Homo sapiens: one gene and its partners. The protein of the gene in region 1 purifies or fractionates together with the protein of each later gene. This does not show direct contact. Each region holds a gene or a part of one and is shown on either strand. Other genes may lie near its edges. The genes, in order: ZSCAN21, LRP1B, SCAND3, ZMYM4, SCPEP1, FRAS1 and ARL8A.

Region 1 (3,500 bases):
AGCGCCACTGCACTCCAGCCTGGGCAACAAGACCGAAACTCTGTTTTTTTAAAAAGAGCTGGGCGTGGTGGTGTGCACCTGTAGTTCCAGCTACTCGGGAGGCTGAGGCAGGAGAATCTCTTGAACCTGGGAGGCAGAGGTTGCACTGAGCCGAGATTGCATAAATGCACTCCAGCCTAGCAACAGAGGGAGACTCCGTCTCAAAAAAAAAAAAAAAAAAAAGACTTTATGCAAAGCTTTCACAGCCAACTTCCCTTTCCTTAGGAGGGCCCAGCAGCTTTGTCTTCTGTCCCATCTGGGTACTAAAACCCAAGCCTGTTCCTGGCTCTGATAATCCTTCCACTCCACCCTCCTCTTTGTGTAATACTGCCAAGGGGCTACACCAAGAGATATGGAAAATAAAACTGACCAGATAGGTCTCCGGCTATTTTTATCTCTAATTACTGTGGCAACTCTGGGGAAACCCCAATTGCCTGGAGAGGTCTACTGTGTTCACCATAAACCATGAAGAATTTAGCTAACAGTTTAATTTTTTACTTTTCCTAGAAAATGTGATTTTTAACCGGCTCGAAACTCTGTTTCCATGATGGAGTTTCACGTTTCAGACACAGCAAGCATGGAGGGAGATTTCTGAGGGCCATGGACTCTTGTCATGAAATCACACCACACACATAAATAGTGGTCTACACCACCAACACGTAAGCAAAGTCCTGGTTTGAAACTATTAGGATTTGGAATAATATGCCATATTTTTGCAAACATATAATTAAACATTAACTCTGTTTCAAAGATTTAGTTCTAATCCTTCTGGTAAATGAAGGTACTTAAGAGTAGAACCCATAAAATAACAAAATAACATAGGGCCAGCTTGGGCAACATAGTGAGACCCTGTCTGTACAAAAAAATAAAGTTAGCCAGACATGGTGGTCCCAGCTACTTGGGAGGCTGAGGTGGGAGGATCATTTGAGCCCCAGAGATTGAGGCTGCAGTGAGCTATGATCACGCCACTGCCCTCCAGCCTGGATGACGGATGGAATCCCTGTCTCAGAAAAACACACAAAAACACCCCCACAGGGGATGACCATTTATGGCCTGAGATTATTCTATAAACCATAATATATGGAGATTTGAGCTCAGGAGTAGTCACCTAATACAGCTTTGACTTGTGAAAAATGCCCCACCTCTTTCCATAGCTTCAGAAAGGAGGTTGCCAATTATTTCCCATTTGCCCTTCTCAGATCCATTCTCTGACCCGCCCTGTGCCCCAGGAAGCTGACCCTAAGGGCTGCACTGTCTTGTCTTTCCTGCCCTCTGGCTGCCAACTGAGTTTGTCATTGGGGAACAAAAGCAGGAGATTTAAGGGCAGGAGGAGGGTGCAGTTGGGGTATTTATTCCGTTTTCTCCTCATCCCACAGCAGGGCCTACAGCCACAACTTCTATCAAGTGACCCCCTCCTCCATGACTATAGCTCTTACCTGATTCTGGTAAGAGGGTCCCCCTCTGTCCCTTTAGGCTCACAGGGAGTAACAGCTTTTCACTGTTGTCTGGTGCAACACTATTCCTTATTGGTTCATTTGAAGTCTCTACACCTCTGTTAACAGTTTCTTTTTTAAACTCATTTCAATTGACCCTTTAAAAAAAATTATTTGTAATACTCAGACTTCAAAGAGAAACTGATCCTTTAAGAGTGATCCATTCCCATGCTAGGGCCCAGGTTAAGACAGCCTTACTTGGGGGAGGAAAGGGGACTATTTCCACCCAGTCAGCCCAACTAATCAAGTCAATCTATGAAATCACCTCACAACCAAGAATTACTAATTATTCTGCTTCTCCAACCACAGGGGCCTGGGGCACTGAATAGGAGTCTAATGGGTGGTCCTCACCTCGGACCTTTCTTGGATCTTGAGCGAACTCCTGCTCCTCACCAGACTCTTGGATGTACAGGGGCCCCCAAGACTCGTATTTGTGACTGGTCTCCAAGGGCTGTGGCTGCATGCTGCTCGGGGATTCCTTTGCAGTTCCTGAGGAGGATATCTTCTCCCACACCGGTTTCTGTTCGTTTGGAGGAGTTGAGACCTAGAGACAATCAGGAATGGCTAGGTTTGTGCATGGCTCACTTTAAGACCAAGAATGAAAATCCCAGTAGAGCTACATAGAACCTCTAGGAAAGAGAAAAGGAAAACACCCATCCCATTCCATTCCCAAGGCTAAAAGTTAGTTTAGGATGATAGAGAAAAATAGGAGGAAACAAGGTCTAATTCAGCAGAAATTTCCATTCAGCAAATCTTAATGTATGGACAAACCCTTGTTCCTGCCTAGAATGTTACGCTCCCAATCTCCTAGAATAACAAAGGTCTCTCCTGCCTACCTGGTGTCCTGGCTCATCCAGTTCCCGCTCCAGATCTTCGAGGAGAGTGACAGCCTCTTCAGCGCTCTCCGGGCAATGCTCCTGCACCCAGGCCTGGAGCTCCTGGGGCAGGATGGTCAGGAACTGCTCCAGCACCAGTAGCTCCAGGATCTGCTCCTTGGTGTGGATCTCGGGCCTCAGCCACTCACAGCAGAGCACCCGGAGTTGGCTCAGGGCCTCTCGGGGTCCAGGGGTATCATGGTACCCAAACTGCCTGAAGCGCTGGCGGAACATCTCCAGGCTAGGAAGGTACTTGCCTTTCTCTTCTTTCTCCTCGACTTTTACCATCAGAGGCCCCACCTGCTCCTGTGGAGGCCTAGGGCCCAGAACTGGGGCCATGCCTAGTACCTTGGTCATCATGTAAACTCCAGAAACAGCCTCACCAAAGATGGGACTCTGTGGGGCAGGAATATTCGTTCCTTTGGGTTTCCAGTTCTTTAGGGCCACAAGTTAAACCTAAGAAAATATAGTTACCAAAAAATAATCAAACTGAAAAGTGTTTTTGGGTCTTTACAGCCATACCTTTAACACAAGAAATTGTGGAAATTATGTCCACCATAAAACTACCATACAAAAACAACTGCTCAAAATCTTTCTGGAATGAGCTGGGTACAGTGGCTCATGCCTATAATTCCAGCACTTTGGGAGGCTGAGACGGGTGGATCACATGAGGTCAGGAGTTTGAGACCAGCCTGGCCAACATGGTGAAACCCTGTCTCTACTAAAAATACAAAATTAGCCAGGCGTGGTGATGGATGCCTGTAATCCCAGCTACCTGGGAGGCTGAGGCAGGAGAATTGCTTGAACCCAGGAGGCAGAGGATACAATGAGCCAAGCCTGCGCCACTGCATTCCAGCCTGCGCAACAGAGCGAGATTCCATCTCTAAAAAAAAAAAAATCTTTCTGCAATCAGCTCAGGATATCCTACTTTGATTTCAGTGGTCTCCACTTTCCTAAAAAGTGCAATGTGGCATAATTTTAAAGTTAACTTTGCTCCAAAACTAGTTCAGAATCTCACCACTATAGATATTATAGTTTCTGAGATTTTATCAAGCTATCTACTGGCTAGATGCCATCTGTTTAAACCTAAGAC
Region 2 (3,500 bases), on another chromosome or scaffold:
AGGTAGGTCATCAGAAACAGCTTAAAAGAAAACCTCAAGACAGGTCTATTTGCGTGAATGGAAATCTATACAACAAACCCCCATGGCACAAGTTTATCTAGGTAGCAAACCTGCACTTGTATCCATGAACTTAAAAGGTAAAAAAATAAATAAGTAAAAATTTTAAGAAAGAAAAAAGAAAGCCCCAGGGAAGTTTGAAATTGAAGCTTTAATATTTTAAGTGGATTAATAAAAGCAATGACAATTGATAAATCTTCTACTACAAATATTGTGAAAAATGATTATACCTTCAAAAATATGACACAGCAGGTCACAGATTAAAGATGTGAAAGGACAATAAAGCTAGTAATAAGTTAAAAATAATTTTGGCTTTTTTGAAACGTGGTAAGAATAGGAGTCTGAATTGAGGGTATGATGATGCTATTTTGAGCTCTTCTTTTCTAGACCTTAATGAATGTTTGGTGTTTGGCACATGTTCCCATCAATGTATAAATGTGGAAGGATCATATAAATGTGTGTGTGACCAGAATTTTCAAGAAAGAAATAACACCTGCATAGCAGAAGGTAAGATTATAACCACTATTGCAAATCCTATTACAATTTTGTTGTAAACATTTTATGGAGAAAAATGTTTTATATTTCATTCCAGCAACAGCTTCATTTCTGATAAAATACTTTTAATGATGATTAATTTGGCCAGTTGGTTAGTTAATATTAATGAATTTAATCTTAGATGGTTTATGGAAATGACTATGAAATATATGGTTACTGTTAAAATCACATTGTGTCATTGTGTTCAAAACAATTTTTCAAAAGGGGTAAAATTTTAAAAGCCAGTGTGATAGAATGTGAAGTATCTCTCTTGATGGTCTGCTCTAAGGGAATATGAGAAAAATTATACCCCAGGGATAAAAATAAACATTAGCATTATAAGGAGAAAGGAATTTTGAGTAAGGATTTTAAAGGTTTTAAAACAAGATCTTGCTTTCAAATTTAGAAGTCCTCCACTTACCAATATTATTTTTTAAAAAGATTAAATGATAGGCCTGGTGCAGTGGCTCATGCCTGTAATCCCAGCACCTTGGGAGGCCAAGGCGAGTGGATCACGAGATCAGGAGTTCAAGAACAACCTGACCAACATGGTGAAACCCCGTCTCTACTAAAACTACAAAAATTAGCCAGGCGTGGTGGTACACACCTGTAGTCCCAGCTACTTGGGAGGCTGATGCAGGAGAATCGCTTCAACCCAGGAGGCAGAGGTTGCAGTGAGCCAGGATTGCGCCACTGAACTCCAGCCTGGGTGACAGAGCAAGACTCCATCTCAAAAAAAGAAAAACAAACAAACAAAAAAAGATTAAATGATAAACTAGGGTTCTGGGCAATTGTAGGTATAGATTTTAATATTCATGTGTTTATGCTAAATAATACTGTAACTTCAATATTGTTGGCTACAAAGTATGATTGGACATTATTAAGATTGTTATTACAAGAAGAAAACAGGATGATGTAATGGATCAACTGTGGGCTATAGCATTTGATATGCTTGGATTTGAATCCCAGCACAGCACCTTTTAGACTGTGTGGCCTCAAGGAATTCACTAAAGTGTCAGAGCCTCAGTTCAGTTTCCATAGTTATAAGAAGTGGAGATAAACTGTGAAAGGCTTAACATAGCGTCTGACACATAATAAGCATTTGCTAAGTGACAGCTATTAACATTACAGAGCTGAAAGGCACCTCATGAGGTATTATTATTATTATTTATTTGCAGAAACTATGTATGCAATCGAACATCTCTTTAGGGCTTCGTTAATATTTTAATTGATAATTTTGGCATTTGCTTTAGGGTTTTACTTGTTAGTATGAAAATGACATTAGTACTCTATTGTAGGTGTCAAAACTTTAGAATAGAATGTTACACTTAGCAGGATTCTAGATAATTTAGAGATTATAGAACTTTAATGGAATAAATACTGATATCTTTTTATGTTAAAAGTTAGTAAGCATTTAAGATGTATAAATACAGTAAGAGGAAGATTCTTCATATTTTAATTTTTATTTCTTAGCCTAAAGTAATGATCACTCAGGTGCATAAATTAAGTAATCAGAAACTTTTGAAGCTTAATGAGTATACAACATAGTACTTGGATATTGACAATTGATGCATTATAACCTAGTGTATTGTGACTTATCAAATAATAATCTCTCTTCATAAAAGGACATTTATATGTACATAATTTCTAGCCATAAGGAAAGATTGGCAGTAGAAAAACCTCTATCAATAATTATTGTAAATGTTTAGATAAGTGAGTATCAGAAATAATAAGCCATAAAGACTAAAAGACAATATAAAACTGGTTGATTTTTGAGGAAAAACTGTATTAAGAATAATAATTCAAGATAATTTAAAAGTACAATTATTGCTTTTAACATTAGTTGAAATTTACTTTATTTTTGTATTTTATTATAATAATCTCCAGGCTCTGAAGATCAAGTTCTCTACATTGCTAATGACACTGATATCCTGGGTTTTATATATCCATTCAACTACAGTGGCGATCATCAACAAATTTCTCATATTGAACATAATTCAAGAATAACAGGGATGGATGTATATTATCAAAGAGATATGATTATTTGGAGTACTCAGTTTAATCCAGGCGGAATTTTCTACAAAAGGATCCATGGCAGAGAAAAAAGGCAAGCAAACAGTGGCTTGATTGTAAGTAAATACCATTGTATATTTGAAAGTCCATACCTTTTCCCCACCTGCTTTTTAAACAAAATTTATCTAATATAATATCTAATTATACTAAGTAATATATTCAATTATTCTCCCAATATTCTCCTTAAATAGAAATAATGCATTTCTCTACTCATTCTCATAGCTGTACATGATTTATTTTAGTTGCATGCTTTTATGTTTTTGCTTTAATGTATTTGACTATTATATAAGAATGCTAATGAATGACATATAACATCTCCAGAACATCTATTTCATAGTGCTTTACAATTATTATGAACATAAGCTTTTTTATCATGAGATGAGATTGGGAAACATCACTTTATTTTTACATTAGAAAGTAGCGTAATGCAGGGATAACTATTTCTCTTCTTACATTATCATAAATATACTTCTACTGTAGGGCAGGACATCAACTCAATAGTGTAACCATTTCTTCTGACTCCTGATAACTATATTTCAGGAAATATCCAAAACAGAAATATTGTGCACTTGTGTATGCTGGACATGTTGATTATCATGGTTATTGTTTTTGAGAAAAAATAAACTGGAACATGTTTCAATTTATGGTTGTAGATTAGATTATCCCTTTTTGTTTTAGGGCATGTCAAGTTATTGTGTGTTTTATATTTTTAAGTAACCTGGAAGGAAAATGACAGATAAATATGTGTTTTTATAGGGCCTGGCCCATTCCTGTACAACCAAAAAGTCAAGTGGTGTCCCAGCAGGATGTAATTGAAGCTTTGTGTTTAACAAAAA
Region 3 (3,500 bases), on another chromosome or scaffold:
CTCCAGTAGTCACTGAGCTTTCCTCAAATATCACAGTTCTCATTTTACCTCCCAATACAACTTCTTTACTGCAGCCCCTTAATCATGGTGTGATTGCAATCTTTAAAGCTTATTATTTAAAGCAAACATTCAAGATATTGGTTGCCTATACAGGGGGTGACAGTGCCCTAACATTTTTTGAATTCTGTAAATGATTCAACATTAAACTTATTATTGATATTATTGTAGAGGCCTGGAATGATTTCACAAAAGCCTGTTTGCACGGGGTGTGATATACAATTCTCCCTGATTTAATTTATGATTCCAAAGCCTTTGAGCCTTCAGAAGATCTCCCCAAAACCAACCCAAGCTGTATCGCTCTTGCAAAGGGGGTTGGATTTGAAGAAGTTGCTAGTGAGGATAATGCGGAGCTGCTGCAATCTGACACACAGGATCTTTCTACAGAAGAGCTGCAAGTTAGTTGCTGAGGCACAAATGGAAGGTGTGGAGGAAGAAGAACATGCAGTTCCACAAGCTACAAGCTGCCTCCCAAGAGCTTTTCACTTCTCAGTTATCTTCTGCTTCAAGTATGATAGAGAAGCAGTTGGAGTAGATAAAAGATAATGACTACAATGCAGAACGCAGCATGATTTCACTTCATGACATAAAGCCCTAATTGGACCCATATAAACAGCTTCTTTATGAAAGAAGGAAAGTGTTAAAACAGCAAACACTGGGTATCTTTTTATAAGCCAGTGTCAAATAAATAAAAACAAGATGATAAACGGGAACCCACATCATGTTTCTTGTAGTATCACTATATCCAAGGGTGGAAGAATATAACATCAAATGTTCAAGCGTCTTCACTTGGATTTTTGATGATTATATCTTTCCACCTTTGAATTGTTGTTGTTGTTGTTTGTTTGTTTGTTTGTTTTGAGACAGAGTCTCGCTCTGTCCCCTGGGCTGCAGTGTAGTGGCACGATCTCGGCTCACTGCAAGCTCTGCCTCCGGGGTTCAGTCATTCTCCTGCCTCAGCCTCCCGAGTAGCTGGGACTACAGGCGCCCGCCACCACGCCCGGCTAATTTTTAGTAGATACGAGGTTTCACCGTGTTAACCAGGATGGTCTCAGTCTCCTGACCTCGTGATCCGCCCACCTCGGCCTCCCAAAGTGTTGGGAATACAGGCGTGAGCCACCGTGCCCGACCCACCTTTGAATTTTTGATGATTATATCCTTCCACCCTTGCCCCCCCTTTCCTCACACTTGTTTCTAACAAGATAACATCACCTTTCTAAGGTAAAATCCTATACTTAAAGTAAGATTTATTAATGTCTTATATTTTTACTAGAGTTTTTATAGTGTTTTTTATTTTATTTTATTTTTATTTTTATTTTTTGAGACGGAGTCTCACTCTGTCCCCAGGCAGGAGTGCAGTGGCAGGATCTTGGCTCACTGCAACCTCTGCCTCCCTGGTACAAGCGATTCTCCTGCCTCAGCCTCCTAAGTAGCTGGGATTTACAGGCAAGCGCCACCACGCCCAGCTAATTTTTGTATTTTTAGTAGAGACGTGGCTTCACCATGTTGGCCAGGATGGTCTCGATCTCTTGATCTCATGATCCGCCCGCGTCAGCCTCCCAAAGTGCTGGGAGTACAGGCGTGAGCCACCGTGCGCCAGCCGGGAGTTGTTATAGTTTTAATAATGCTCTAGTGACAAAGTTGTGTAGGTGTTAAAATAGTCCACCCTTTAACCGTATTTTCCCCATAAATCCTGTCACTTTTCTGCAGTTTTGCAGAAAGCATGTTTTTTTAATACATTCATATGTTATGTTGCAGCACAAATGCCTATATAAGCAGTTTCTCACGTCTAGTCAGCACACCCTTTTCTCTTTGCTTTAAATAACAAATACTGTAGTTTTTTTCCCCCTTAAGATATGCCTGTTACTTTAGAATAGGGGTATCCAATCTTTTGGCTTCCCTGGGCCATATTGGAAGAATAATTGTCTTGGGCCACACTAAAATACACTAACACTAACGATTGCTGATGAGCTTAAAAAAAATCACAAAACAATCTTACAATGTTTTAAGAAAGTTTACAAGATTGTGTTGGGCCACATTCAGAACTGTCCTGGGCTGCAAGTGGCCTGCAGGCTGCAGGGTGGATAAGCTTGCTTTAAAATTTCCCCTTCTAGCTTTGTTGAAAAATGTAGCTTCTGGTAGGACTTGGTGTTTGGTCAGTTCCTTGGGTATTGTTCAGGTTATACGCTGATCATGTTTGATAGTTTTTTTAATGTGGTCAGAGTTATAAATATCTCTTAGTGTTGTTGAATATCAAGTTTGTATAAATGTTTCTCATTTTTCTTGTTTTTGTGTGATTTCCCCCACAGGGGAAATACCACTGGCAGACACTTTTAGCTGCCAACCCAGTGTCTATTCTACCCTTCTTTCCTCCCGACAAAATGTTGGTTTTGTTCATACTGGCAATATATCTAATTAAATTCTTTTCCAGGCTTCCTTGTTCTAGAGTTAACTATGCAACAGAATTCTGGCCAGGGAGAAATAAGCATATTTCGGGGAGGAGGTTCCTGGGGAAGCTTTTATTTTCCTGATAGGATAGGGGAGATTACTTTAGTTTCACCTTTTCTCACTTCCAGTCTTGAACACTAATATGATATCTGGCCATCTTCTGACCATTAAGTGATGGTAAGCATGAGGCCAAATGCTAGTGTTAAAAGTGACAGAGCAGAAATATGAAGACAGCTAGGGTCCCTGAAAAACTGTTAGATAAATGAGTTGGTGCCAGCAACTACCTTCTTCTAGGCTTCTTGTTATGTAACAAAAATAAACCCCTATTTGTTTGTGCCACTGTAAGTTAGATGTTCGAATTTATTGGAAATATGTGCATTTCTAATGAACACAGCAATATTTACTCTACCATATTACAACCAAAAGTTTCTTTCCAGCATTTTTATTTATTTATTTGAGATGGAATCTCACTCTGTCACCCAGGCTGGAGGGCAGTGGCACGATCTTGGCTCACTGCAACCTCCACCTCCCAGGCTCAAGCAATCTGCCTTCCTCAGCCTCCTGAGTAGCTGGGACCACAGATATGTGCTACCATGCCTGGCTAATTTTTTGTATTTTGGGCAGTGATGAGGTTTCACTATGTTGCCCAGGCTGGTCTCGAATTCCTGAGCTCAAGCAATCCTCCCACCTCGGCCTCCCAAAGTGCTGAGATTACAGATGTCAGCTACTGCACTCAGCTTCTTTCCAGCGTTAAAAAAAATCAAACCCAGGAATTGAATACTGAAAGACTAATGACTGTCATGACCAGTTTGAAGTAACTTCAGTTTTGTAATTTATTACCACTACCCAAGGTACTCTTCAAACTTCTGTGGTAGAGGCAGAAGTGGAGTTCCTCCCGGTTCTAAGACCAGGCCCACCCATTTTGGTCTAGTCCAGCTGGTGGAAAAGTAGAGGAATCAAGAGACTAGATTTGTGTTTGTGCTTGGGGGGGTGGG
Region 4 (3,850 bases), on another chromosome or scaffold:
CATATCTATGTGGATTTTGAACCACAAAACAAATTACCTTGTCTTCATAATTATTTTATGAAAATGTCTTCAAAAGCAAGAATCACTGCTATTGTTTGATCTTTACAACTGTTGTACAACCTTTATGTGATACCTAATCTGTAGTTATTTTGTTATTTGTATAGAAAAGAAATTTTGTTTTGCTAAAGCTATAATAGAAAAACAATTTTTAAGGAATTGAAATTTTCTAAGTAGTCCTTTTCTTAGAGGAACTTTATGATTTTAGAGTTGTAACACTTTTTTTTCTGAAAGAAATGTAATAGCTTCATTTGCCCTTTGATAATGTGTATTGAGTGCCCTTGGAGTTCATTCCAGGATATTGGGCACTTCCAATATGTGGTGCTTGGCCATAGTGTCACATGTGAGTTGACTTTTTTGTTGCTCTTAATAATGTTTGAAGTACTAAAGTTTATGATTTACACTTTGTCTTATATTAACTTTATACTCACTTCCAATCCATTGTGATTTCAGTTGATTCCTGGGAGGAAATATTCCTGTAAACTATTTATCTCTGTGGGTACCTTGCTTTCCCCATTGTGAGTCACAGTGGAGAAAGGTTGAGAGCCATATTAGGTTGGTGCAAAAATAATTGCAGTTTTTGCCCTTACTTTTAATTACTTTTAATGGCAAAAACCTCAGTTTACTTAAGAATAGTACATATTTCCTATACTCTCTGATTTCTAATTTTCTTTTTTCTCTTTTTTTTTTTCCCCTGTGGATAGTTCTGAAAGTGTGAAGCAAAGGAATGATGTGTTTTACCTTCAACCTGAGCGCTCCTGTGTCCCGAATAGCCCCATGTGGTACTCCACATTCCCGATAGACCCTGGAACCCTGGACACCATGTTAACACGTATTCTCATGGTGAGGGAGGTACATGAAGAACTTGCCAAAGCCAAATCTGAAGACTCTGATGTTGAATTATCAGATTAAAACGGAAGTGAGGTTCTTATTTTCATACATATTGGTATGCACCAAACTGTGAATGCATCCAGCTGTTGGAAAATGATGTATAAGTCTAAGTCCTCTTGACTTGACCATAAGATCATGGAAAACAGATGACTTGTGAACCCCACAGTGTGGATGTGCAAATGAAAATTGAAGGAAAGAATATGAACTGAGAAATGTTCTTTGGCAGTGATATAGTTCTTAGACATCTTCAGAATGACTAATTTCTCCGAGTGGTGCATAATCTTATTTTGTTTGGGAGTAACAAATCGTGGAATATTTTTAAGGAAAACTGTTGTATAAAACTTTACCATAGTAACCTTAGACCTTAGAGAGGTAGCTTTGGAGTGAAACTTTGGCTGCAATAGGCTACTTTGGCAAGCCCTCCGTAAAAGTCAGAGGAGAGATCAGTACAGAGCTAAGAGTGACATCAAATGAGGACTGTGGGACCCAGATTTGAAGACCCAATAAAAATACTCAACTTTTTAAAAAAGATAGTGAAGTGGTCTTGATTGATTTTGATTTTCACTGCCAAGCCAATCATGTGAAGGACAGAAGCTTTTGCCATGGGCCCCTCACATCAGGGAAAATGACCTTCACTGCTGTTAACAGTAATGTGTCCCTTTCATTTTCTGGATCAAGCCTTCTCAGCGGTGGGTCTGGATGTGGGTAAACTAAGGTAAAGGGGATGATATTCCACAAACTAATTATGCACACAGAAAATCTGTGGAGCCTATCAGACCCCAAGTGTCTTGAAATGTTTGTAGAAACCCACTAAAATGCCCCTTCTCTGGGTGTGGGCCCTTATTGCAGCTGTCTCACAGCCTGAGCTGTGGTACAGAGAAATGGGGGTTCTCCTTTTATTTTCATTTTTTTTCCCCAATGGCAGCTTTTCTCCCGTTGTTTTACCTTCCTATTTCCCAAACAGTTCCTCTTATTTTGTCTTTTGCACCAGTTTCTGGAGGCCCTTGTCATTTCAAAAAGGATAGTCTCTTTTCTTACTCTGGCAAACCTGTGAGTGATTCCACAAAGATACAGTATTACTTAGCTATCTGAATTATGATAGAAAAGGTCCTAGTTAGGTTCCTATATAAAGCATTTGGAAGATGACCTTGTTGCCCTTGAAACTTGAAAATAGGGATTCTGGGGTGAGGATACAAAGACATTGTCTTGCATATCCATAAGCAGGTCTTAGAGCATTATTCCAAACTCTAGCTGTTTCAGTAGTTCTATGAGGATTGCAAGTCATAGGTGTGTGTGGCATATCAGTCCATCTCCCTCATCTCCATTCTCAGTTTCTTCCCCACAAAATTTGGAATCAAAGCTTTTATGACGTTTGCCAATTGCAGAACTTCTTCAGCTAAGGTTAATTTGACGCTATGATAAAACTGAGAGATGTCAAAAAGCCTCTTAGAAATTTTAATCTTGAAAGACTTTTCAGGGTATCTCATTTTTTAGGTGGGGGTGGCAGGTGTATTTCTTTTTTAACAAATAAAAGGCATTTAAGTAAAACTAAAATGAAAAAAGTAGGCCTTCTGACATTGTGTACTTGGTGGTTCTGTCCCTCTGCCTGTAACAAATCTCATTTTTGTTACCAAGAACTGTATGAAAGAAGTAAATCCACCCCGATTCTGTATGATTAATTCCATCTGTGTTTGTCATTTCTGACTGGAAAACTTCTTACTCCATACCTTGTTCGATATGGAGGACAAATAATTGGATTGTCTGATAAGTCTGCCAATAAACTATCCAGAAATAGCAAGTGTAATAGTCCCCACTATACGAATTTTATGGTTTGTATAAACACTAACATTTTCCCCTTCTGTAGTTGTATGAAAAAACAAATATTGTTAGCATAGTAGATAAATTGTTATGAAATACCAGAAAAAAAAATCTGTATCTTTTACTGAGAACACCCAATACCCAGATAAATGACTGTATCAGGATTTCATTTGCATGTTAGTCCACAGAGTTGCCCAGAACCCTAAATTTATTCATAAGAGAAAATATTGATTAATTATTGGTCATTCCTCATAAGTGTAGCTGTTGATGTGTGCGTCTGATTATTGCTTTTTTAATTTTATGAAAATTGTGTAAAATTACATTTTTTTTCCAGGGGAGAAAAAAACATCAAACAAAAACATCTAAATCATCCTTTTTGTTCTTTTTCAGTTTTTAACCACTTTTAGGTTTTCCCCTTACAGAAACCACAGAAATATTCCCTTAGAATAAAATAGTATATTTGTATTTGATGGGTGAGTTCTTCTTCTTTACGTCTTAAAAGAATTTGAAATCTCTTTTTCTGATTGACCTTATTGGTATGACCCAGCAATTAGTAAAATTACAAAGAAAGAGAGCAGTTTCCGAGAAAGAAATTTTTTTTATGTAGTCCAGTCAACATATTTTTTCATTGCAAGTTCTTTTATTTCCTTTTTTCCATCAAAAGACTTGTTCCCATTTTTAGCTAATTTACTGACTATATTCAAAGTCCCAACAGGTAGAAATATCAGAGATCATTTATACATATCATTTCAGGCAAACTTTTTTGAGATTTACAAAGCCTACATCAGTTCAACTTTAATGAAATTGTAAGACTAGAATAAAGGATATGTTCATTCTTAAGTATAAATACATGTTTAAAACAGGAATGTAAGACTAAATAGCATTTTCCTTCGACTTCAGAGTTGTCTTGGTATTATGCAGCTGTACTTTCAAATTCCGTATCGACTTTCTACCTACCTGCCTTGTGGCAATCCTAAATTTATAAAACAGGTTTTCCCAAAAGATCTAATGTAAAATGAATTTCTATTAATGAATTCAGAATTTAATTTTCCAAAGAAGTCTCCTAGGGTATTGAGTTGAAGTT
Region 5 (3,500 bases), on another chromosome or scaffold:
GACAAAAGCAGATGTTTCCAAAGATTTAGGGTCACTGTACAGGGCCTTCCACTTCAGCTGACTGAATTTAGGCAGTTCTGGCCACTTCAGTTTCCGCACCCAGGCCTCCTGACCTGGTGAGAAGGACAAAGAGAAAGGCCTGGCATTAACAGCTGGATAGAATAGGAAAAAAGTCTAGGTCCTAAAAGTTGGTGCTTCCCAAACTGCAATATGCATGAAACTCACTCAGGATCTTGTTAAAATGCAAATTCTGATTCAGAAGATCAGGGTAGGGCCTGAGCATCTGCATTTCTGACTCCCAGTGAAACCTAGGCTGCTGGGAGAAACCTAACAGCTGCAAAGCCTGACTGATTTTGCCTCTGCATCTCTCACCGCCATCTGCTCTTTAGGAAGGGAACTGGGGACCTCTGGAGGCAGACAGGCCTGTGAGGAGGACTGAGAGATGTCGTGAACGAGATAGTGATAAGGATCACCTGGGATGTTCATCGAGAAATGCAGCAGCTTTCCAAATTGTCCTTGGTGTCTCTTGTTTACCCATCACAAAAATATTCAATCCTTCTGGTTCACGAGGCGTGTCACATCCGTCAGACCTTGTGCCTCAATTACCCTGCCAGTTCAGAGAACCTGTCTCTGAGCCTCCACCAGGCCCTATTTAATTTGGAAGTGAGCAAATTAAACAGGTGGTAGGTGATAGGGCAGGAGTCAGGATTCCACAAAGACCATTTCCCCTGGGTCTTCAGGGTTACAGTCATTAGGGTTTAGTTTTAATTCACTCTGCAGTGGTCAACATCGACTGTGATGTCGCACAAAAATGAGGCTCTCCCTTAATTAAACAGCGCATTTGCCCAATAACCAGGAAAATGTCTAAGTTTTGTGGTAGAGACAGGTGGTGTTCTTTTCTTTAATCATACCTAAGGGCCCCCAAACCCAGGTAGGCTCAGGCTTCTGAGGGGTCACAGCCACGTGCAGCTCCCCACCCTTTGAATAATCAAGGTCGGGGTAGACGGATGTAATGGGAAATGGCCTTCCACCTGGCATTTCAACATCACCCACCGCAAGACTGACATGTCCAAGGCCAGTTCCCTTCCAGTTGAACCCATAAAACTGCCTCTAGGTGCCTCTCAGAGTCAATTCCTACCCATGGTATCTACGATGAGATCCAGCTGTCCATTATACACCGTCACGTTGATCCCTGCCTCCAGCAACTCGTCCACAATGCTAATGACTGGCTTCATGAAGTCCTCCTCCATGTTCACAAAGACGTTGGTAGCCTGGCCTGCACATGGGGAAGGAGAAAGAGGGAGTAGCTTGGAATCTGCCAAAACAGGAGGTACCTTTCAGCCCAGAGCATCTTGGGCTCCAGCACCGAACAACGACTGAATGCACAGATGCTTCACAAACAGGGATGAACCAGCCCAGAAATTTGTGCCGACTGGTCAGGTGTAAGGCACACATAAATAGCACATGTGGTCCATTCTCTTGAGAGCTTGTGATGACAGCAGGCACCATTTTTAATGAGGAATTGACACCTGGAATAGGCTACTGTCCAAGGAAACAGGGAGGGAGAGGCCCAGGAAATACTCATTAGGCTGGTACACTCAGGGAATAAATTGTGCTTTGGGCCAATGTCAGTTTTCCTGTTTTTTTGAGTAACACCAGGGCCAAGTTTCAAGTTCTGAACAGGTAGGCCTACCTTATAATAAACCAGATCAAACCTAAACCAATTCAGAGCTGGCCCTCAGGAAAGCCAAATGAATAACAAGCCCCAGGCAAGAGAGGAGCTAGTACTCTTGCTAGCTCCTGCCCATCAGCATTATCCTAACACTGAATGACAGCAATAAGAGTGGCAGCCACCATTATTTGCTAGTCACTGCCAAGGAGGCATCTGACAAGCAACATCCCATTTTCTTCTTCATTACCTTGGGAGATAAGAAGTCTTCTTTTAAAAAAATTTAATTTTTATTTATTTATTTACTTATTTGAGACAGAGTCTCACCCTGTCACCCAGGCTGGAGAGCGGGGGCACAATCTCAGCTCACTGCAGCCTCTACCTCCCAGGCTTAAGCGATCCTCCCACCTCAGCCTCCCAAGTAGCTGAGACTACAGATGCACACCACCACGCCCAGCTCTTTTTTTTTTTTTTTTTTTTAGACAGAGTTTCACTCTTATTGCCCAGGCTGGAGTGCAATGGCACAATCTTGGCTCACCGCAATCTCTGCCTCTCGGGTTCAAGCGATTCCCCCACCTCAGCCTCCCAAGTAGCTGGGATTACAGGCATGTGCCACCTCACCCAGCTAATTTTGTATTTTTAGTAGAGACAGGGTTTCTCCATGTTGGTCAGGCTGGTCTCGAACTCCCGACCTCAGGTGATCCGCCCACCTTGGCATCCCAAAATGCTGGGATTACAGGCGTGAGCCACCACACCCGGCCACACCCAGCTCTTTTCATTTGAGCTAATTTTTCTTCATTTCTAAAATTCTCCCAGCACTCAGGAGTAATGAAAAAACCAGGGATGGAATGAGACCTCTGGTGACTGCAGGTTGGGAGAGGAGGGCCCATGTCCCCTGAGAAAGCTCCCAGCAGCAGCAAATCGTAGGCTCCCAGCAGCAGCCGCAGGACCACTGACCCCATATCCTTGGGGTATCTTGAACACACATGAAACAAAACCCTCTTAGGTTTGGAGTATTTTCCCTTCAGAAACCTGAGATCTCTGCTTGCTCAAGGCCTCCCTATAGGACTAAAGTAGGAACTTAACCAAGATTTCTACCTGGCCCTGGTCTCTAAGGATTTCATTATTTCCTCACCATGGCCTTGAGACCAGAACGCAGTAATGCCTGGCCATATCCAGCATCAGGATGCCTGGGGAGGTCAGCAAGAGAGAGCTGGTCAAAATCTGCCCGAGCACCTGGGTGTCTCTGACATCCTGCAAGGACCTTTGGCGCGAAATCTCATCTGCAACCAACTGTGGCCTTCGATGTAGCTTTTTTATCTTAATTTTTTATTATGGAAAATTTCAAATGGATAGAAAGGAGAAGCATACAATGCTCCGATGTACCCATACCAGGCTTCAACAATTATTAACTCACAACCAATTACACATTATTTCCCTCCCCACTCAGCTCCCTACCAACTCCTTATTTTGAATCAATTTTGATGTCTTTTTTTTCCCCTTTTTAAGAAACAGGGTTTCTCTCTGCTGCCCAGGCTGGAGAGCAGTGGCATAATCATAGCTCACTGTACCCTCAAACTCCTGGGTTCAAGCAATCCTCCCACCTCAGCCTCCCAAGTAGTTAGAACTATATGCCACATGCCACCATGCCCAGCTAATTTTTCTATTTTTTTAAAGAGATGGGGCTTTACTATGTTGCTTAATTGTGGCCTCAAGCAATCCTCTCAACTCAGTCTCCCACAGTGGTGGGATTATAGGCGTGAGCCACTGCATCCAGCCCTGACAAGTCATTTACTGTCTCTGTATCTATTTGCTCACCTACAAAACGTGG
Region 6 (3,500 bases), on another chromosome or scaffold:
ATACCATTCCCTAGGCAGATTTCTGTACCTGGTTTCATGCTCTCTTAACATGACATACCTTCCTCTATTGTGGAATGTAACAGTATAGCATTTGGGTGATTAATAAAGTATTGTGGTGGTTTGGTTTGAGAGCATAGTACCTTGACTTGGAATCCCACCCTCACCGTTTGCTTGCTTTGTGACCTTCAGCAAATCACTTAGCCCCACTCAGTGCCTCAGGTTTCTCATCTGCAAAATTGTGAGCACTCCATGAGTTATTACATGAGAGGACTTGGTACAGTACCTGGAAAATAGTATGAGTTTGATAAATATGAGCCTATTTTAGTCAATCACTGTGAGTTTGTTTCCATCCTCTCAACTGCATCTCACACACCTTGGTATCCCCTGTGCATAACAGAATACTTTGCTTCCCTTAAATGCTTAATTAATGCTTATTGAAAAAAAGAAGGCATAAATGTTCCCTAGCAAGAAAACTCAGAGAAAAAAAGAAAATAAGAATAAAAACGAAGCAATAAATGAATGAGTATTTTAGGGGCACATGGAATCATGGAGCTCTTCATAGAAAAGTGCTTTTCACTCTTAAGGGAGCATGTTTAACCCCTTTCAACCCTTGACATTTGTTTTTCTTTCATCTTAAAGTCTGACCTAATTAATACCTTTCAATCTTTTCAGGTCAAATCCTTTATGGCCGAGTACTTTGGAATCCAGAACAAAATCTTAATTCTGCTTACAAACTCCAGCTGGAGAAAGTCTATCTTTGTACGGGCAAGGATGGTTATGTGCCTTTCTTTGATCCCACGGGGACAATCTACAATGAAGGGCCCCAGTATGGATGCATTCAGCCAAACAAACACCTAAAACACAGATTCCTGCTGTTGGTATGCTAAGTTCTCACTATTAGTGTTAAAGAGCAGACACTTGAGCAGATTTCCTCAGCTATGACTTCTGCCTAAAGTAGATAGAGCTCACTCTTGATATTTTCTTCTCTATATATGTTTGTGTTGTTGTTTCTTTCAGATCAGCTAAATACTAGTACATAGGTGGTAGTTACGATGAGTAACAAGACAAACTTCCATTGATGTCCTCAGAAAAGGAAACTCTCGGCCAATGTTTCTCAGAGTATGGTTCAGAGACCTGGAGTGTCCCCATACTCTTTCAGGGAGTCTACAGAGTCAAAATTACTTTCAAAATAATATGATGATGACTCTTTTTTTCATACTTATTCCCTCATGAGTTTAGAGAGTTTAAAAAGTTTATCAATAAAATTTCAGATTCCACATTGTAATGAATCTTTAAAAAATAACCACTCACCAAGTTTTGATTTAGTATCAAAAAAGAGGCAGGGCGTGGTGGCTCATGCCTGTAATCCCAACATTTTGGGACACTGAGGTGGGAGAATCACTTAAGCTTAGGAGTTTGAGACAAGCCTGAGAAACATAAGGAGACCCCATATCTACAAAAAAATATTTGAAAATTAGCTGGGCTTGGTGGCATGCACTTGTAGTCACAGCTACTTGGGAGGCTGAGGTGAGAAAATCACTTGAGACTGGGAGGTCAAGGATGCAGTGAGCCAAGATTGCACCACTGCACTCCAGCCTGGGCAACAGAGCAAGACCCTATCTCAAAAAAAAAAAAGAAAAAAAAAAGCCATAATTGTTTGAAAAAGCTATTAACTACATAGCTTTATGAGGCCAGATTTTCTTCATACACTTTAGACAAAACAGCATATCACAACTGATGGAATTCAGAAGCAGTTATGAGAATCCAGTTTTTTCCCTGAGATTACAAAAATGTAAAACATTGCCAGCTCTCTTTATTGAGGAAGGGAATGAATTTAGGTATTTTCACTAAAAAATATCTTACTTAAGTTAACATGTAATGAGTTTCTTATTGTCAGTTTAAAATGAATTAATAAGTAAACACTTAAAATTTTTTCAGGTTTAATTTTTAACCGAGTAAATGTCGATAGATATAAGTCACATAAACAAAAACTCTCTGGGGTCCTTGATTTGTAAGTGTGTAAAGGGTCCTGAGACCAAATAACTTGAGAAGTATTGGGCTAGAATATCCCACTTTTTGCATTTTGAGATCACAAAAGCCACCACATGTCCTTTTGAAAAGGACAGTGGGTTCCCAGAGTTAGTGTATTAGTCTGTTCTCATGTTGCTAATGACATGCCTGTAACTGGGTAATTTATAAAGGAAAGAGGTTTCATTGACTTACAGTTCAGCATGGCTGGGGAGGCCTCTTACAATCATAGCAGAAGGGGAAGCAAATACATCCTTCTTCACATAGGGGCAGCAAGAAGTGCCGAGCAGAGGGGAAAAAGCCTCTTAAAAAACCATCAGAGGTCCGGGCGCGGTGGCTCAAGCCTGTAATCCCAGCACTTTGGGAGGCCGAGGTGGGCGGATCACGAGGTCAGGAGATTGAGACCATCCTAGCTAACACAGTGAAACTCTGTCTTTACTAAAAATACAAAAAAATTAGCCTGGTGTGGTGGCAGGCTCCTGTAGTCCCAGCTACTCCGGAGGCTGAGGCAGGAGAATGGCATGAACCCAGGAGGTGGAGCCAGCAGTGAGCTGAGATCGCGCCACTGCACTCCAGCCTGGGCGACAGAGCAAGACTCCATCTAAAAAAAAAAAAAAAAAAAATCAGATCTCATGAGAACCCACTCACTATCACAAGAACATCATAGAGGTAACTGTCACCGTGATTCAATTACTTCCTATTGGGTCCCTCCCATGACACATGGGGATTATGGGAACTGTAATTCAAGATAAGATTTGGTGGGGACACAGCCAAACCATATCAGGCAGCCACTGACTTATGGAGAGGGCTTCACAGCACATACTCTCTCAACTCAACCTAAAGCCAGGAGTGATGAGTACTTTTCTCCTCCCAGTCACTGCCACCTACCAATATAGTGGAACCATCTTTCTAAATCTTGCATTTCTTTTTTCTGAAATCCTAGGACCGCAATCAGCCAGAGGTAACTGATAAGTACTTCCATGATGTGCCTTTTGAGGCTCACTTTGCCTCTGAGTTGCCTGATTTCCATGTGGTCAGTAACATGCCAGGTGTGGATGGATTTACTCTAAAAGTAGATGCACTCTATAAGGTGAGTTTGGTGAGAAGAACAGAAGCTTAAGACCAAGTCTACTTTAAAGCTTGAAAAAAAAAAAAAAAAGAAGGAGGACTGCAACATCTCTGGATTCTTCAACATTCTGCCATTCTTGCTGGCAGATCTTTTCTTATTGTTAAGCTTATCACCCACCCAAAATTTTCACATGTATCCCCAGTAGACCAAAACAATTATACAATTATTGACTTTGCATATAGTCACTTGTCATTGTGCACATCATGGCTGCATATGACACTCCAGTTTTTCCTAAGTTCTTTTATATTGCATCCCTTTTTGGTTCTATGCTAGCCCAGCTGATTTTCACGGACATATGAAAAACATTTAAAAAATCATAATACAATACAGCAATTTAGAATAG
Region 7 (3,955 bases), on another chromosome or scaffold:
ACCGCTGCACTCCAGCCTGGGCCACACAGTGAGACCCCATCAAAAAAAAAAAAAAAAACAATATTATGCTAGCCGAAACCTTGTGATTCTTCTACTTTGGTAACTGTTTGACTATTTGGGGTCATCTAACTCCAGTTGATTGGACAGATATGGTTGATATTGATAGTTTACCCACTTTTGACTAAAACAATAGACTACATATGACTACATTTGAAAACCAAACCCCAACGGGCAGCCAGCATAGGCTGGGGACTGCCCGAAGCCTGAGCCTACCCGGGACTGCCAGCTGAGGTTGTCAGCCTGCCTGAGCAGGTCCTATGGGTGGGTCTTGCAAGGAGAGGGGCAGGAGTAAGGCATCTTTGCAGGCACTCCAGACCCACTTCAAGAGGAGAACTATCACTTCTCCTCCTGAAGAATACTCTGCTTTTCACCAAAACAGGGCAACATTTTCCTTTGTCACAGACGTTCCTCACTGAAAACCCCCTGCCAGGACTGTATCTGTTTGGGTATCTTGGGGATGCTGGTAAAAATCCGGAGCAAGTTCAAGCGTCCGTTTCACTTGGGGCCAGAGGCTTCCTAACAAGTGGTCGGGGTAAATTGTGGTGAACAAAACAAGATGGAGTATTAAAAGACCCGAATACGGTTGTCCCTCTGCACTGGGTGCATTTTGAGAGGATGGGACTGTACCCAGGAATGCTCAGAGGCAAGGGTTCAGGGACAAAAAAGCCTCCATCTGCCTCCCTGTCGTAGAGATCTCATCTCCGTGTCCTGGGAAGTGGGTGACCCACTCTCCTTCAACCTGAAAAGGCTCCTGCTTAACCGGAACCTCACCCACCTCGAGCCCACCACCCTTTAAGAAAGGGGGTGCCAGTCAGGGCGCGGCAGTCGGGGACAGGGTCTAAAATAAATTAGACCCCATTTCCCAAGCGCCTCTCGACGCCAGCTGCCGGTCAACCCCCGCCGCTGAAGCCTGCGGATTCCCTGCTCACCCCACCTGCGGATTCCCTGCTCACCCCACCTGCGGGTGCGGCCCCTGGCCCCCCGGCTCCAGCGAGGGAGGAGCGCGCGCTCGGGTGCGAGCAGGACACGGCCCGGCCGCGAGGGAGGGCGGCGGCGGCGGCGGAGGAGGAGGGCGCGGAAGCCACACCCATCGGCGAGCCGATTCCGGGGCAGCGAGTCGTCGGCAGCCGCGCTCGAGCCTCCGCCCGCACCGAGCCGCGGGACCCGGGCCGTACCGGGGAGGGGCCGCTCCGGGCCGCAGCGCGAGGGCAGCGAGGGGCGGCGGGGACCTGGCACCGGGCGGGGCCGGCGGCAGCGACCATGATCGCTTTGTTCAACAAGCTGCTGGACTGGTTCAAGGCCCTATTCTGGAAGGAGGAGATGGAGCTCACGCTGGTCGGGCTTCAGTACTCGGGCAAGACCACCTTCGTCAACGTGATCGCGGTACGAGGGCGTCGGGCGCGGGGTCCCCGGGCGCGGGCCGCGGGTCGGGCCTGTCCCCGCCCGCGCCGCGCCCTGCTGAGCCGGGGTCGCCGCCTGGCATAGCCGGGCACGGCCGGGCGCCGGGCGGGGGAGGAGCCGGCCCCGAGCGCTTGGGGCCTAGTACGGCCCGTGCCGTGGGGGACCGGGGCGGCGCGCGACCCGCTCTCTCACCCGGGCCGGTACTGCACGGCTGGGGGCAGGGGAAGGGGGACGAACAGACAGGGCCGGTGCCACGGGGCAGGCGGCACCGAGGGGCTCTCGAAGCAGGAGGGACCCGCTGCCGGCTGAGACGGGCCCCCTCTGGCCCCCGCGCAAGGGGGCATGACGGGGCGAAAGTGCACGGGCCTTCCTGTCCCGCGGGTAGAGGGTCACGGGACGGGGCGGCCGAGAGGCTTGAGGAGGGGGTTTGGGCAAGCCCAGCCCCACCCAGAGGGCTTAACCCCTCCTTGCCGGAAGAGGAAGCCCCGGCCCTATTGAGGGGGAGGGGAGGTATCCCCCGGGGTAGAGGAGTCAGCTGAGGCCCTTGGCTCAAGCCCAGACTCCTCCCCAACTTCTCCCCGACCCGCAGTGTCTAGCCGGGGGTCCAGGGAGGATCGCATGGTAACGGGAGTTTGGAGACTCCGTCTGGCTCAGAAGTTTGCAGGAGCAGGTGCTCCCGACAAGAGAGGATGAGGTGTAGGGGCACGGCCCACTGGGGCCTTGGGAGAGTGGCTCTAAGGGCTTTGGGTCGTCAACACTGAAGTGGGTGATTGTAAGTCTTTCAGCGCCAGGGGAGTGGTGGGGAAGGAGTTAAAATCTCTCTCAAAAAAGGGGAAGATGAGCTCCATGGGTGTGAGCTGAGGCTGCCGTAATGGCTGCGGCCTGCCTGTCAGAGCCAGGCTAGACAGGGCTTGTGGGTCGAGGAAGCATGGGACAGGGGCTGGGGTTGTCCAGGGACCTGGCCCCAGTCCCAAAGCTGAGGTTTCCCACAACTGTGAGTTGGCCAGATAGTAACCAAAGATACTGATGAGATAGGTCAGCAGAGGAATGTATCCAGCCGGCCTAGGTACCTCTACCTGTCCGTGTTGTTGCCCCACCTTGCAGAAGATGGGCCTCCTCGACAGTTCTCAGCGTCCTAGAAGGCAGGGGACGTCACTTCATTGGACCTGAGGCATGAAGGCAGATGGAAAGCTCGAGGGGCGGGCATCCTGTGGTTACACAATTGAACACTGGCTTCCTTTCCCAAACATGCTCTGCAAATGACCTCTGCCCTTTCTCGACCCAGTGTCTCCTGTCTCCTGACCTGACAGGGCAGGATCTTCAGGCCAATGCTGCGGTTTTGGCACAGTAATTTTCGGAGCTAACACCCCTGGGCTCTGTCTGCCTAGGCTCTGCCCTTGGGGTCAGAGACCCTCTGGTTAAACTTGGCATTGACTTAGGCTCTTGGATTCCCAGAGCAGGCACATAACACCTGGACTCTGACCTGACTCTGCAGGCCTAGGTGGCTTGGGTTCTAGGCGTTTAGGTCTGAGAAATGCAGCTGGGCCTAGGTATCTCCTCGTTCCCCAGGGTGTTACTATAGCTGTGCTCTGGGACAGGGATCCACAGGTACCCGGGTGGGTTCGGTTTCTGGGTCTGCAGTTGAGCCTTTGACAGGAGGGCCCCCTCTAGACCAGCATCATATCCAGAGAGTTGGAGACTATAGCAGGCCAGAAACAGAACCCAAGAGTCCCAAATTCCCCTGCCAGGGTCAAGAGTTCCTGTGATATACAGGAAAAGCACCCCATCTCCAGCCCACAAGGTCCCCTTTTTAATCTTAAATTTGCCACTTCCGCTGGCACATTCTAAAAGAGCAGGCAAGCTAAATTCCCTTCTTTAGAGAGGCTTCCCAAGGAAAACCACCCCATGTGGGCTGCAGTTGGAATTCCAGTGTCCCGGTCACTCCAGTGTTTTCAGATCCTCTGGGGCTACCACACTGGCATTGCTGCCCACCCCGTGTATAATCACAGTTGAGTGTCTTCCAGAAAGAAACGAAGAGTTGGGACCCCTGGGCTCTGTTCCCATGCCTACCACTGAATTTCTGAATTACCTGTGCCTGTTCATTTGGCCTCTGTTTGTCTCAGATCTTTCGCCATTGGGTTTTTTCTACTCACCCTATGAGGTCTGGCTGTAAATAGAAATTGAGTTTAGTGTGTCTAGCTGCTCAGCAGGTTAATGTGAGCTGGAAAGAAATTATATACACTGCTTCTAAGAACCTGAAACATCAGCCGGGCATGGTGGCTCACGCCTGTAATCCCAGCAATTGGGAGGCCAAAGTGGGGGTTTCACCTGAGGCTAGGAGTTCGAGACCAGCCTGGCCAACATGGTGAAACCCCATCTCTACTAAAAATACAAAAATTAGCCAGGCATGGTGGTGGCCACCTGTAATCCCAGCTACTTGGGAGGCTGAGGCAAGAGAATTGCTTGAACCCAGGAGGCGGAGGCTGCAGTGAGT

Evidence for each region.
Region 2: the proteins of ZSCAN21 (region 1) and LRP1B purify together in Homo sapiens (affinity purification with mass spectrometry; one large-scale study listed by BioGRID and IntAct). This does not show direct contact.
Region 3: the proteins of ZSCAN21 (region 1) and SCAND3 purify together in Homo sapiens (affinity purification with mass spectrometry; one large-scale study listed by BioGRID and IntAct). This does not show direct contact.
Region 4: the proteins of ZSCAN21 (region 1) and ZMYM4 purify together in Homo sapiens (affinity purification with mass spectrometry; one large-scale study listed by BioGRID and IntAct). This does not show direct contact.
Region 5: the proteins of ZSCAN21 (region 1) and SCPEP1 purify together in Homo sapiens (co-immunoprecipitation; one large-scale study listed by IntAct). This does not show direct contact.
Region 6: the proteins of ZSCAN21 (region 1) and FRAS1 purify together in Homo sapiens (affinity purification with mass spectrometry; one large-scale study listed by BioGRID and IntAct). This does not show direct contact.
Region 7: the proteins of ZSCAN21 (region 1) and ARL8A purify together in Homo sapiens (affinity purification with mass spectrometry; one large-scale study listed by BioGRID and IntAct). This does not show direct contact.

Annotation. Positions count from the first base shown.
Region 1 is NC_000007.14:100,056,274-100,059,773, reverse strand, and holds part of ZSCAN21 (zinc finger and SCAN domain-containing protein 21), read right to left. Parts: intron 2,864-3,500; 5' UTR 2,768-2,863; coding exon 2,369-2,767; intron 2,077-2,368; coding exon 1,884-2,076; intron 1-1,883. UniProt on the Homo sapiens protein: Strong transcriptional activator. Plays an important role in spermatogenesis; essential for the progression of meiotic prophase I in spermatocytes.
Region 2 is NC_000002.12:140,350,017-140,353,516, reverse strand, and holds part of LRP1B (low-density lipoprotein receptor-related protein 1B precursor), read left to right. Parts: intron 1-444; coding exon 445-564; intron 565-2,478; coding exon 2,479-2,720; intron 2,721-3,500. UniProt on the Homo sapiens protein: Potential cell surface proteins that bind and internalize ligands in the process of receptor-mediated endocytosis.
Region 3 is NC_000006.12:28,580,799-28,584,298, reverse strand, and holds part of SCAND3 (SCAN domain-containing protein 3), read left to right. Parts: intron 1-3,500.
Region 4 is NC_000001.11:35,418,709-35,422,558, forward strand, and holds the end of ZMYM4 (zinc finger MYM-type protein 4), read left to right. Parts: intron 1-761; coding exon 762-969; 3' UTR 970-3,350; downstream 3,351-3,850. UniProt on the Homo sapiens protein: Plays a role in the regulation of cell morphology and cytoskeletal organization.
Region 5 is NC_000017.11:56,998,631-57,002,130, reverse strand, and holds part of SCPEP1 (retinoid-inducible serine carboxypeptidase precursor), read right to left. Parts: intron 1,277-3,500; coding exon 1,139-1,276; intron 114-1,138; coding exon 1-113. UniProt on the Homo sapiens protein: May be involved in vascular wall and kidney homeostasis.
Region 6 is NC_000004.12:78,536,323-78,539,822, forward strand, and holds part of FRAS1 (extracellular matrix organizing protein FRAS1 isoform 1 precursor), read left to right. Parts: intron 1-672; coding exon 673-878; intron 879-2,971; coding exon 2,972-3,118; intron 3,119-3,500. UniProt on the Homo sapiens protein: Involved in extracellular matrix organization. Required for the regulation of epidermal-basement membrane adhesion responsible for proper organogenesis during embryonic development. Involved in brain organization and function.
Region 7 is NC_000001.11:202,141,938-202,145,892, reverse strand, and holds the start of ARL8A (ADP-ribosylation factor-like protein 8A), read left to right. Parts: upstream 1-1,155; 5' UTR 1,156-1,320; coding exon 1,321-1,443; intron 1,444-3,955. UniProt on the Homo sapiens protein: Plays a role in lysosome motility. In neurons, mediates the anterograde axonal long-range transport of presynaptic lysosome-related vesicles required for presynaptic biogenesis and synaptic function. May play a role in chromosome segregation.